Regions from separate parts of the Homo sapiens genome. Here region 1 is linked to region 2. Evidence: fine-mapped expression QTL. A gene starts in region 2. The other region holds a variant in brackets. All regions are shown on one strand. Distances are from middle to middle. Region 1 overlaps SYNJ2BP-COX16 (SYNJ2BP-COX16 readthrough). Region 2 holds the start of COX16 (cytochrome c oxidase assembly factor COX16).

Evidence for each region. PIP is the estimated chance that this variant, and not a neighbour inherited with it, causes the effect. A credible set is the group of variants that fine-mapping cannot tell apart.
Region 1: its variant is the best candidate, but not a certain one, in a credible set for the expression of COX16 in iPS cells (PhLiPS, PIP 0.70).

Annotation. Positions count from the first base shown.
Region 1 is chr14:70,393,404-70,398,790 of GRCh38, reverse strand. The region is part of intron 1 of SYNJ2BP-COX16 (SYNJ2BP-COX16 readthrough); the gene reads left to right. The region is part of intron 1 of SYNJ2BP (synaptojanin 2 binding protein); the gene reads left to right. Among named protein-coding and RNA genes, the nearest start is that of SYNJ2BP, 21 kb to the left of the region's middle. The variant T/CATACATACAT (reference allele first, on the strand shown) is at 2,209.
Region 2 is chr14:70,356,517-70,361,903 of GRCh38, reverse strand. It overlaps COX16 (cytochrome c oxidase assembly factor COX16), which reads left to right and starts at 2,221. Exons shown (of 4, transcript NM_016468.7): 1 at 2,221-2,385. The coding sequence starts at 2,317. All of the region lies in intron 3 of SYNJ2BP-COX16 (SYNJ2BP-COX16 readthrough), which reads left to right. It also overlaps the pseudogene RNU2-51P. RefSeq lists enhancers at 1,642-1,731, 2,192-2,501.

The DNA.
Region 1 (5,387 bases), 37 kb before region 2:
CCCCCACCCCAGGCTGTGAGGAGGCACAGCTAGTGCTGGCTGCACACTTCATGGAGCAGATGAGAGCTCTGCCCTCCCAGGTGCAAAGACCTAGGCATTTCTGCACTCTTCACCCTCAGGGGCCCAGGAAGGTTCCCCCTGCACCCACAGGCTCAGGGGTGTCTTTTCCTGCTGCCTGGCCTCTCCCTGCTCCCAGTGCCTGCTCTGATCTCAGTGCAGGGTTTGGGCCAATCTGAGTGCTGTCAAAGCCCGGCCCAGTGTGTACACACTTAGGGCAGTGCTGACACACCAGCCCCTTGCTGCCTCAGCCCTCTCTGGACTTTGGGCACCAACAAGCATGAGGGGAATCCTGGGGGTGCTGAGGGCAGCTCAGCACTGGCCTGCAGGTGCCCCTTGGCACAAACAGGCTGGTCGCCATGGATGGTGGCAGGAGGCAGACAGTCTCCTGGGTGGAAGGGGGTTGGTCCCTGGTGAGGCCCCACCTTCAGGCCAAGGTGGGCCTGAAGGCTGAGGGCTGGGCTGCTAGTCCCACAGACTGGAATGGGTACATGTGGTGCCTTTTCTGGGCTGTCTGTGGCTGCCCATGGACCAGTCGGCATACACTTCTGCTCTGAGGCCCATAAATGCCCCAGGTTCAGCCACAGCAGAGAAGATGGGATGACCAGCTCCAGAGAGGAGCTACCCTCTCTGCTGAGAACTGAGTACTTGTTGAGATGACCTGCCTACAGAGAGGAGCTACCCTCTCTGCTGAGAGTTGAACACTCATTGGGATGACCTCCCTAGCAGAGAAGAGCTACTGTCTCTGCTAGGAGCCGAACACTCATCAGCACACCCTGGATGCTGAAAGGAGCTGCCCCCTGCAGGTCCCCTCTGAGCTGTTCTGTCACTCAGTAAAGCTCCTCTTTGACTTGCTGACACTCCACTTGTCTGTGTATCTCATTCTTCCTGGTTGCTGGACAAGAACTCAGGATCCATCGAATGGTGAGGCTAAGAGAGCTGTAACACAGTCAGGGCTGAGACATGCCCCTTGCTTGCCACATTGTGGGTGAAGAGAAAGAGAGAAGAGCTGCAACCCTTCATGTATCTGAGACCTGGGAGCTCCCTGAGCCAGGGCTGTGACTTTCTCCTTGGGACCCTACGGTTCCTGGCATCTCCAAGCTTCCAGATGCCATCGTGTTCCCCAGTGCCAGCTGTAGAAGCTGCTCGCGCTACGCCTGGTCCAGCTGTAGCCTTGCAGAGAGCCAGCACCTGGAGCTGCCCACCCTGCTGCAGCAGCCACACAGAGGTCTCCTGCCAGAAAAGTGACACCCCAAAGTTCCCATAACAAAACAACAGAGTGCCAAAATGTATCAAGCAAATGTTGAAAAATTGATCTGGAGAAGTAGACCATTTTATAATAATAGTTAGACCTCAGTATCCTCATTTTCAGTAATGGATAGGACAACCAACAGAAAATCAATAAGGAAAGAGAGGATTTGAACAACACTATAAACAAATTAGACCTAACAGGCGTATATATATATATAGAACACATCATCAAATAACAGCAGAGTACACATTTTTAACATACGGTGTTTGGAAAACTGTATATTCACATGCAGAAGTATGTGAAAGTTGGATTTTTGCCTTAACATTATGTACAAAAATTAACTAGAAATTTATTAAATACCTAAATGTAAGAGCTAAAACCATAAAACTCTTAGAAGAATGGAAAAAGCTTCAATACCTTCGATTTGGCTATGATTTCTTGGATGTGATACCAAAAGCACAGGCAACAAAACAAAAGATAAACCGGGCTTCATTAAAAGTAAAAAATTTTGTGTTTCAAAGGACACTATGAGGAGAGTTAAAGATAGCCCACAGAATGGGAGATAGTATTTGCCAATTATTTATTTGCTAAGAAGTTAATATCCAGCATATATAAAGAACTTTTACAGCTTAGTGACAGAAAACAACCCAATTCAAAAATGAGCAAAGGACCTGAGTAGACATTTCTCCAAAGAAGGTAATACAAATGGCCAATGGCCAATAAGCACATGAAAAAAATATTTAACATCACTAGCTGTTAGGGAAATGCAAATCAAAACCACAATTTGTTACCACTTCACACCCATTAGGATGACTATTTTACATACATACATATATATATACACATACATATATATATAAATATACATATATATACATACATATACACACATACATACA[T/CATACATACAT]ACATACACACATATCATTGGGGTAGCTGTGCATTGTTTGTGAGGATGTAAAATGGTGCAGCCACTGTGGAAAAGTTTATCACCTCCTCAAATTATTAAATATATAATTACCATGTGATTCTGCAATTCCACTCCTAGGTATATACCCAAAAGAATTGCAAGAAGGGACCGGGCGCGGTGGGTCATGCCTGTAATCCCAGCACTTTGGGAGGCTGAGGCGGGCAGATCATGAGGTCAGGAGATGGAGACCATCCTGGCTAACATGGTGAAACCCTGTCTCTACTAAAAATACCAAAAATTAGCCAGGCGTGGTGGCAGGCGCTTGTAATCCCAGTTACTCAGGAGGCTGAGGCAGGAGAATGAGTGAACCTGGGAGGCGGAGCTTTCAGTGAGCGGAGATCGCGCCACTGCTGGTCAGCCTGGGCGACAGAGCAAGACTCCATCTCAAAAAATAAAAAAAAGAATTGCAGGAAGGAACTCAAAACAGATATTTGTACACCAGTGTTCACAGCCGCCAAATGTGGAAACAACACAGATATCCTCTGCCAGATGAATAGGTAAATAAAATGTGGTATGTACATACAAAAGATTATAATTCAGCCTTAAAAAAAAGAATGAAATTCTGAAATGTGCTGCAATGTGAATGAACCTTGAAGACATTATGCTAAGCAATATAAACAAGACACAGAATAACAAATATTGTGTGATTCTACTTATATGGGGTACCTAGAATACACAAATTAATATAGACAGAAAGTATAATAGATGGTGTCAGAGTTTGGGGGAGGGGAGAATAAGGAGCTATTTTTTAGTGGGTATAGAGTTTTTATTTGAATAAAAAGTTCCAGATATAGGTGGTGGTGATGATTATACGACATTGTGAAGGTACTTAATGCCACTGAATTATACATTTAAAAATGGGTAAAATGTTAAATTTTATGTTAAGTTTATTTTACCATGATATAGATAAAGACAGACAGGGGGGTTGTGTATCCAATGGAGTTTGATTGATGTCTGGGAGAAAATTAGTCGGATTGATCTTGGGAAAGAAAAGGGAAAATAGGGTGTTTGTTACTCTAGTCTTCATAAAAGACAGACAGGGGGGTTGTGTATCCAATGGAGTTTGATTGATGTCTGGGAGAAAATTAGTCGGATTGATCTTGGGAAAGAAAAGGGAAAATAGGGTGTTTGTTACTCTAGTCTTCATAACTCAACAAGTGGCTATAATCCTTGGTGTTAATGAACTATTTTGTTTCATTTTAATTATGTCCAGAATTGTTATTTCTAGAATAACAGGTTAACACTGGTCATTTACTTTATAACTTTTAGATTTTGTAGATAAGAATCTGAATGAAATGAAGGGCTTTTCCTTTTCTGGTCTGAAGGTAAATAATAGGAACCTTGACAACAGTTACAAAACTCTATAGTGGTGAATTCTTCCTCTAGAATATATTACCCTTGGAGATTGTTCTACAACCATTATCCCAGCATTGCTTGTTCAGAGCCAGCCTGGAGACCAGTTAGCTCCTAAGATAGCCAGCAATGCTTAGAAGACTTTTTTTCTTAAAGCAGTTTATATTTTCTGCAAAGATGTATTGTAGCAAAATGGTTAAAAATTCATGCTTTGGAATCACACAGCCTGACTTAAGTCTTGGCTTTGCAAAGAGCTGTGTGACATTTTTGTAAAGTTGCTTAACCTGTCCATGCCTCACCTTTTAAACTCTTTGAAAAATGAGTACTTGTGTTTGTCAAGAAGATTAAATGAGATAATATATATAAAGTACATAGCATATTATTTGGTACATAATAAGGTCTTGGTAAACATTAGCTGTTGCTTCTGCCATTGCTCTTTTAAACAGGCTTAGGGTCCAGACCTATAGTCAGGAGTTCAAAAGAAGGGATTTCTTGTTTAACTTTCCAAGGTTCTTCTATTAGGCACACTTTCTTTCTCTCTTAATCCTATAGTGGTGTCATTCTTATGCTACCTTTACTATTTTGCATTTAGACTGCAAAATAGACACCCAGCAACCCATTTTAATCTTGCCATATTTTAAAATTTGTTGGCACATTATAACCAGAGCTCACTAAGCTCTTCATTCATTCACTAAAAAAAAAAAAAAAAAAGTTGAATCCCAGTCTTTTTTCTTCCTGCCTCTCCCCTCAACTCCTTTTGGACCTTAAATGCTAAGAGCTGAATTAATTATACCCTTTAGCTCCAAAGTACACTGTTATCATCAGTATGTTCCTCTCAGGTTCTTTTTTCACCCTTCATACCTAAACTCTATCCTGTATCTTTCTCCCCATAAGTACCCACTCTAATGTGTCTTTATATTTCTTTAAATATGCATGCATTTTTGTAAATAGTTAATATTTGTGTGTATGTTTTTATTTATAGGGAGGTGTTGTGTTATGAATATGAACATTACATTTTAAAACTCCATGTTTCTTTTTTTTTACATTTTTATATTTTTACAAGCCTGGTTACCTTGTAAATAGCTGTAATAGGTTTCTGTCTCATGGGTGGTCAGACTTTTCCTGTGAGTTAATGAAAAACTAAGAATATATTATTAAGGATCTTTTTTTTTTCCTTTGGTTTCAAATCTTTTTTTTTTTTTTTAATTTTAAGTTCTGAGATACATGTGCTGAACGTGCAGGTTTGTTACATAGGTATACATGTGCCATGGTGGTTTCCTGCACTATCAACCCGTTATCTAGGTTTTAAGCTCCGCATGCATTAGGTATTTGTCCTAATGCTCTCCCTCCCCTTACCCCCCACCCCCTGACAGGCCCTGGTGTATGATGTTCCCCTCCCTGTGTCCATGTGTTCTCATTGTTCGGCTCCCACTTATGTGAGTGAGAACATGCAGTGTTTGGTTTTCTGTTTCTGTGTTAGTTTGCTGAGGATGATGGTTTCCAGCTTCATCCATATCCCTGCAAAGGACATGAACTCATTCTTTTTTATGGCTGCATAGTATTCCATGATATATATGTGCCAATTTTCTTTATCCAGTCTATTGTTGATGGGCATTTGGGTTGGTTCCAAGTCTTTGCTATTGTAAACAGTGCTGCAGTAAACATATGTGTGCCTGTGTGTTTATAGTAGAATGATTTATAATCCTTTGGGTATATACCCAGTAATGGGATTGCTGGGTCAAATGGTATTTCTGCTTCTAGATCCT
Region 2 (5,387 bases):
AGAAGGGCGCTATGCATAGCTGGTAAAATTTACCACCTATGTAGTATGATTTGATAGGTGCTTACATTCCTCAGTGTCACAGATTTTGTCCCCTGACAATCTGCCGGCATACCTGTAATTCCTACTGTTCACAGTTACTCCTTCAGGGCCATTTCAAGGTTCTCAATAAATGCTTATTTGAGTGATTGAACAAACAAGATACTAAAGACATAGAGTGCCTTAAATTGGATAGATGCCTTATCTGAAAAGTGTAAGATTATCGACTCTAGCATTATTTTGAATATATGTATACGATTTAACCCATTATTAGCTACTACTTAGGTGCCGGGTTTTGATGGAGTAGTATCCAGTAGGCTGATGTTTTATGTAGTGAAGATGTAGGAAAACGCTAGAGTTTTAGAGCAGCGCCTTTGGCTTCTAGGATCTTAGGGAAAGTAGGAGATGTGATACGCTTAACTAACCTGGATGCCACGTGAGATTTATTTATTTATTTTTGAAACAGGGTCTAGCTGTGTCACCCAGGCTGCAGTGCAGTGGCATGATCACGGCTCACTGTAGCCTGGACCTCCTGGGCTCAAGTGATCTTCCCACCTCAGCTTCCCAAGTAGCTGAGACCCCACCATGCCTGGCTAATTTATTATTATTATTATTATTTGTAAAGATGGGGTCTTGCTTTGTTGCTCAGGCTGGTCTCGAACTCCTGGGCTCAAATGATCCTCCTGCCTCAGCCTCCCAAACTGCAGGTATTACAGGCATGAGCCACCATGCCTGGTCTGCATGAATTTTGAAATATCAAAAGGAAGTAAATAAGATGGGAGAGATGCACCGTTCCTGGGTTTCTGGAGGTATTGAAATACAGGTTGATGTGTAGAGTGGTGGAGCAAACTCCTATTCCATCTCCTTGCTTCAAAAACCCATTTAACATATTTTCCTTGGATAGAGAATGTGTCAAATATTAAACTGTTAAGAACAGATACTACACTTGATCTTAGCCAAAAGGATAAGTTTCACTGGAGTAGCCTGCAGTAGATCTGGAGCTTCTCTTCTGGAGACCACTTAAGAGGCTACTTTAATAGGTGAAAAGATGATAAGGAATTAAAAAAAGGAACATTTCAGTGGTAACAGAGAGGCAGGGACAGATGGAAATATTTCAGGAATAGCATGGAAGATAATATTCCGCATCACCTGCACTCTGATTCACTCTGGTAAATGGGACACGTGGGGGATCGGCTTCCTAAGCTATCCCAGTACTTCACACATGTTTGTTTCTGTGCCCATGAAATCGCCAGTGTCTTTAAGGTAAGGATCATATATTTTTATCTGTGTTCCTAGAACCCTTTCAAAGACACGCTGAAAGGTGGCCTGTATGGTTGCTGAATCATTGGTAAATAGACATTCATAAATGACTAAAGATTACAGGTTATCTCACAGTAAAATCATTAGCATTAAAAGTTCAGTAATGACTGATGAGACACTACACTGATTACATTTCAACCTAATCTTTCAAAAGCGATTTATTTTTAAAAGTCTCCATTAAACTGGCAAATTCCTCATCCCACAAATAGCCATAAAGACTGGAGTACCAGCTTCAAAATACTTTTTTTTCTTTTTTCTTTTTGAGACGAAGTCTCGCTCTTGTTCCCCAGGCTGGAGTGCGATGGCGCGATCTCTGCTCATTGCAACCTCCGCCTCCCGGGTTCAAGCGATTCTCCTGCCTCGGCCCCCCAGTAGCTGGGATTACAGGCGCCTGCCACCACGCCCGGCTAATTTTTGTATTTTTTTTTTTTAATAGAGACGGGGTTTTACCATGTTGACCAGGCTGATCTAGAACTCCTGACCTCAGGTGATCTACCGGCCTCGGCCTCCCAAAGTGCTGGGATTACAGGCCACCCACCCAGGCCACCGCGCCCGGCCTCAAAATACTTTTTTCCTTAGCTGATTTTATCGAGTGGCTATGTGCCTAAGGGAGTGTTCTAAGCAGACGTTAGTTAGGACCCAGAACGTGGGAAGTACTGGTTTCCAGATCAATTTGGTGGTGATCGTAAACCGATTCAAATCTCTAAATCCCAATTGCACGCCGACGTTACGGAACCAAAAACGCTGACGCCCACATTTCTGGGCGGACGCACAAGTATGTTACGATGGCTCGATTGCTTTTGCCTAGCGGAAACCATTCACTAAGGACCGAGCACCAAATAACCAAGGAAAAGGAAGTGAGTTAAGGACGTACTCGTCTTGGTGAGAGCGTGAGCTGCTGAGATTTGGGAGTCTGCGCTAGGCCCGCTTGGAGTTCTGAGCCGATGGAAGAGTTCACTCATGTTTGCACCCGCGGTGATGCGTGCTTTTCGCAAGAACAAGACTCTCGGCTATGGAGTCCCCATGTTGGTGAGTGGAGTGAGGAGGATCTTCCGCAAGGGGTGGGACCCTCCTCCTTGGCAGGATCAAGACCTGGGAGGGAATCTGTAAAATGTGAAGTTAAGGGCTGGCACTCGGGCTAGGAAGGAGCTAGCGACGGGGTGAGAGCTTTCCTAAAAGCTCTTCCACCAGTCTTTTCCACACCCCCACTTCCCCGCCGCTGTCCCCCACTCCCGGTTGGATTTCAGGTGTACTAGGATCTGTCTGCTTGTGAGCGTGGCGTCTTTCCCATCGTCGAACGCGGTCATTGTTACTACCCTTGATTCACAGTTAAGTAAATTGAAGCTCAGAGAATTCAGTCAGAACCACACTTTAAGCCAAGTTTGGATGATTACTAAGCTTGCTTCCTCGCCCCCAACTTAGCTATGTTTTGACGATACTGTGGATCATTGGGACTAGATGTATTCCATTTAACTGCACGAATTCCTGGTATCTTTCTGTTTCATCTTTCTAGTTTGTGAATTAGCTTAATACTTAGAGTTGTGATGAACTAATAACACCTTGTGAATAAAGTGTTGAGTACGGTGCCTGCCACATTGTAGCCAGAATGATTGCTGTGTTATAATTTCTAAAGCACGTTGAAAACAGCTTCCGTGTTTATATGGTTTCATCCATATCCACACTGAGTTCCCTAAGGATGTCATGAAATGCAGGCTGAGGCTGGCTTAAGACAACCAGAGTTGAAATCCAGATGACTCTTATTTGCTTTTTGATTACGGGCCAGTTATTTTGCTTCAGCAAGCCTTGATGTGTTAGTAAATGAAATAATTAAAGCATATGAACAAAAGCTGCTTTTAAATACAGACTATATTTTTATTTTGTATGAATGTTGGCGCAGATGAAATTACCAGCTTTTCCATTTAAGCAGACTAAAGGAAAGAAGTGATCTTAGAAAGGTAATGGATATTTTACACAGTTTTGAAAAATCCACATTCATCAAATGTGGATTTTAGGAATCTCCAAAAGATTCACCCATTTGAAGTATCTGGGCCAAGCACGATGGCTCACACCTGTAATCCCAGTGTTAGGGGAAGCCAAGACAGGAGGATCGCTTTAGGTCAGGAGTTCCAAACCAGCAAGACCTCTGTCTCTCCAAAAAAAAAAAAAAAAAAAAAAATTGTTGTTTTTAGCAAATTCGATATTAGTATACTAATATATTCGTATATTAGTATATTCTTAGTTATGGAGCCATCACCACAATTTTAGAACATTTTCATTGCCCCCAAAAAAGCATCATAACTAATAGTAGTCACTTCCCATTTCTTCCTGCCTCTTAATGCTGGCCTGGTAAACCACTAATCTACTTCTACCCGTAAATTTGCTTATTCTGCACATTTCATATTAACACACTAATACAACGTGGGTTTTTTGTGACTGGATTCTTCCACTTAGAATGTTTTTAAGGTTCATTCACATTGTAACATATATCAATACTTCATTCCTTTTGATGGATATAATTCCATTGTTTGGATATATTTTATCAATTGATGAACATTTGGGTTGTTTCAATTTTTGACTATTATGAATAATGCTGCTATGAACATTTATGTACACGCTTTGTGTGGAAGTATGTTTTCATTTCTCTCAGGTAGGGAATATACCTAGACGTGGAATTGCTAGGTCATATGGTAACTCTTCAACTTTTTAGGATGTGCCAGATGTTTTCCAAAGTGGCTGCATCATTTTACATTCCCACCAGCAAGATATGATTTTCAATTTCTCCACATCCTTGCCAACACTTGTTATTGTCCATCTTTTGAATTATTACCCTTTCTAGTAGGTGTGAAGTGATACCTCATTGTGGTTTTGATTTTCATTTCCCTAACGACTTATTATGTTGAGCATCTTTTCAAATGTTTATTGGTCATTTGAATATCTTTTTGGAGAAATGTCTGTTCAAATCCTTTGCCCATTTTTTAATTGGACTATGTTTCCTTTTATTGGACAGAGGTTTCTTTAAAACCCAAAACCAACAAATCTGCCAGTCTTTGTCGAGAGGCTCTGCATGCTTTTTTGGGCATGCTTTCAACATTCAGCCATGCAATTTACAGCTCCATGTATAGCCTTCACTTCTTACTTGCTCAGAGCTTCAAATTAGTCATAAGTTGAGAATTTAGGGCCTTCTCAGGTCTTTCTTGGGCATATACATTGCTCTGGGCATGTACACAGTTCTAGTTATTTGCATGACTTTCTAAATTCTCAGGAATATATTTGAGCTTTTCAGAGTCCTCTAAGGACACCTTATTCCTATTATCTACCACATCAGACAGTCATAATGTTAAACAATTACCTCTGAATTTTTTTTTTTTTTTTTTTTTTTTTTTTTTTTTGACAAACGCTTCCTAGGAGAAGTCTGTTCATACTAGTTGAGCTCCATGTCAGGTAAACTACAGAGAGCTTTGTGAATAGCATCTTCCAGGAAGTACCAGACTGGTGAAATGATGACATTTCTCACAGAATGGTGTTTTAAAGAGCTCCAACCTCTCTACCCTCTTCACTTGGTGCCAGGCTTTACATCATGTTTGCAGGCTGTTGGTTTTCATGGTTGTTACGGAGCTTGGGTGGAGGGGTGAGAATATGACAAATTAAAAATGCCACCAAGCTGTTCTTCCTGAGATTCAGGCATTTTTCTTAGGTAAATACTGTGCACATTGTTGCAAGTTTTTGCTTAATTTTCAGAGTTCTAAAAAAGTTTATTTGACAATTTTTTACAAATATTCTCGTTTTTGTGGAGGAAAGGATTTTTGGAGATACTCCACCATGTCACTGATATCACCCTTTGGTTCTTCTTTATATCTTCTATGTCTTTGGCGAGATTTTCTAATTTTCCATTTGTTTCAAGAAAATCTGTTGTTGTTTGAAGTATTTTTATGATGTTTCCTTTGAGGTCTTCGTCATCTTTGTCAGATAATTCTAATCTCTGATTTATCTCTGTGTTAGCATCTCTCCATAGCCTTTTTAAAATTCAAGTT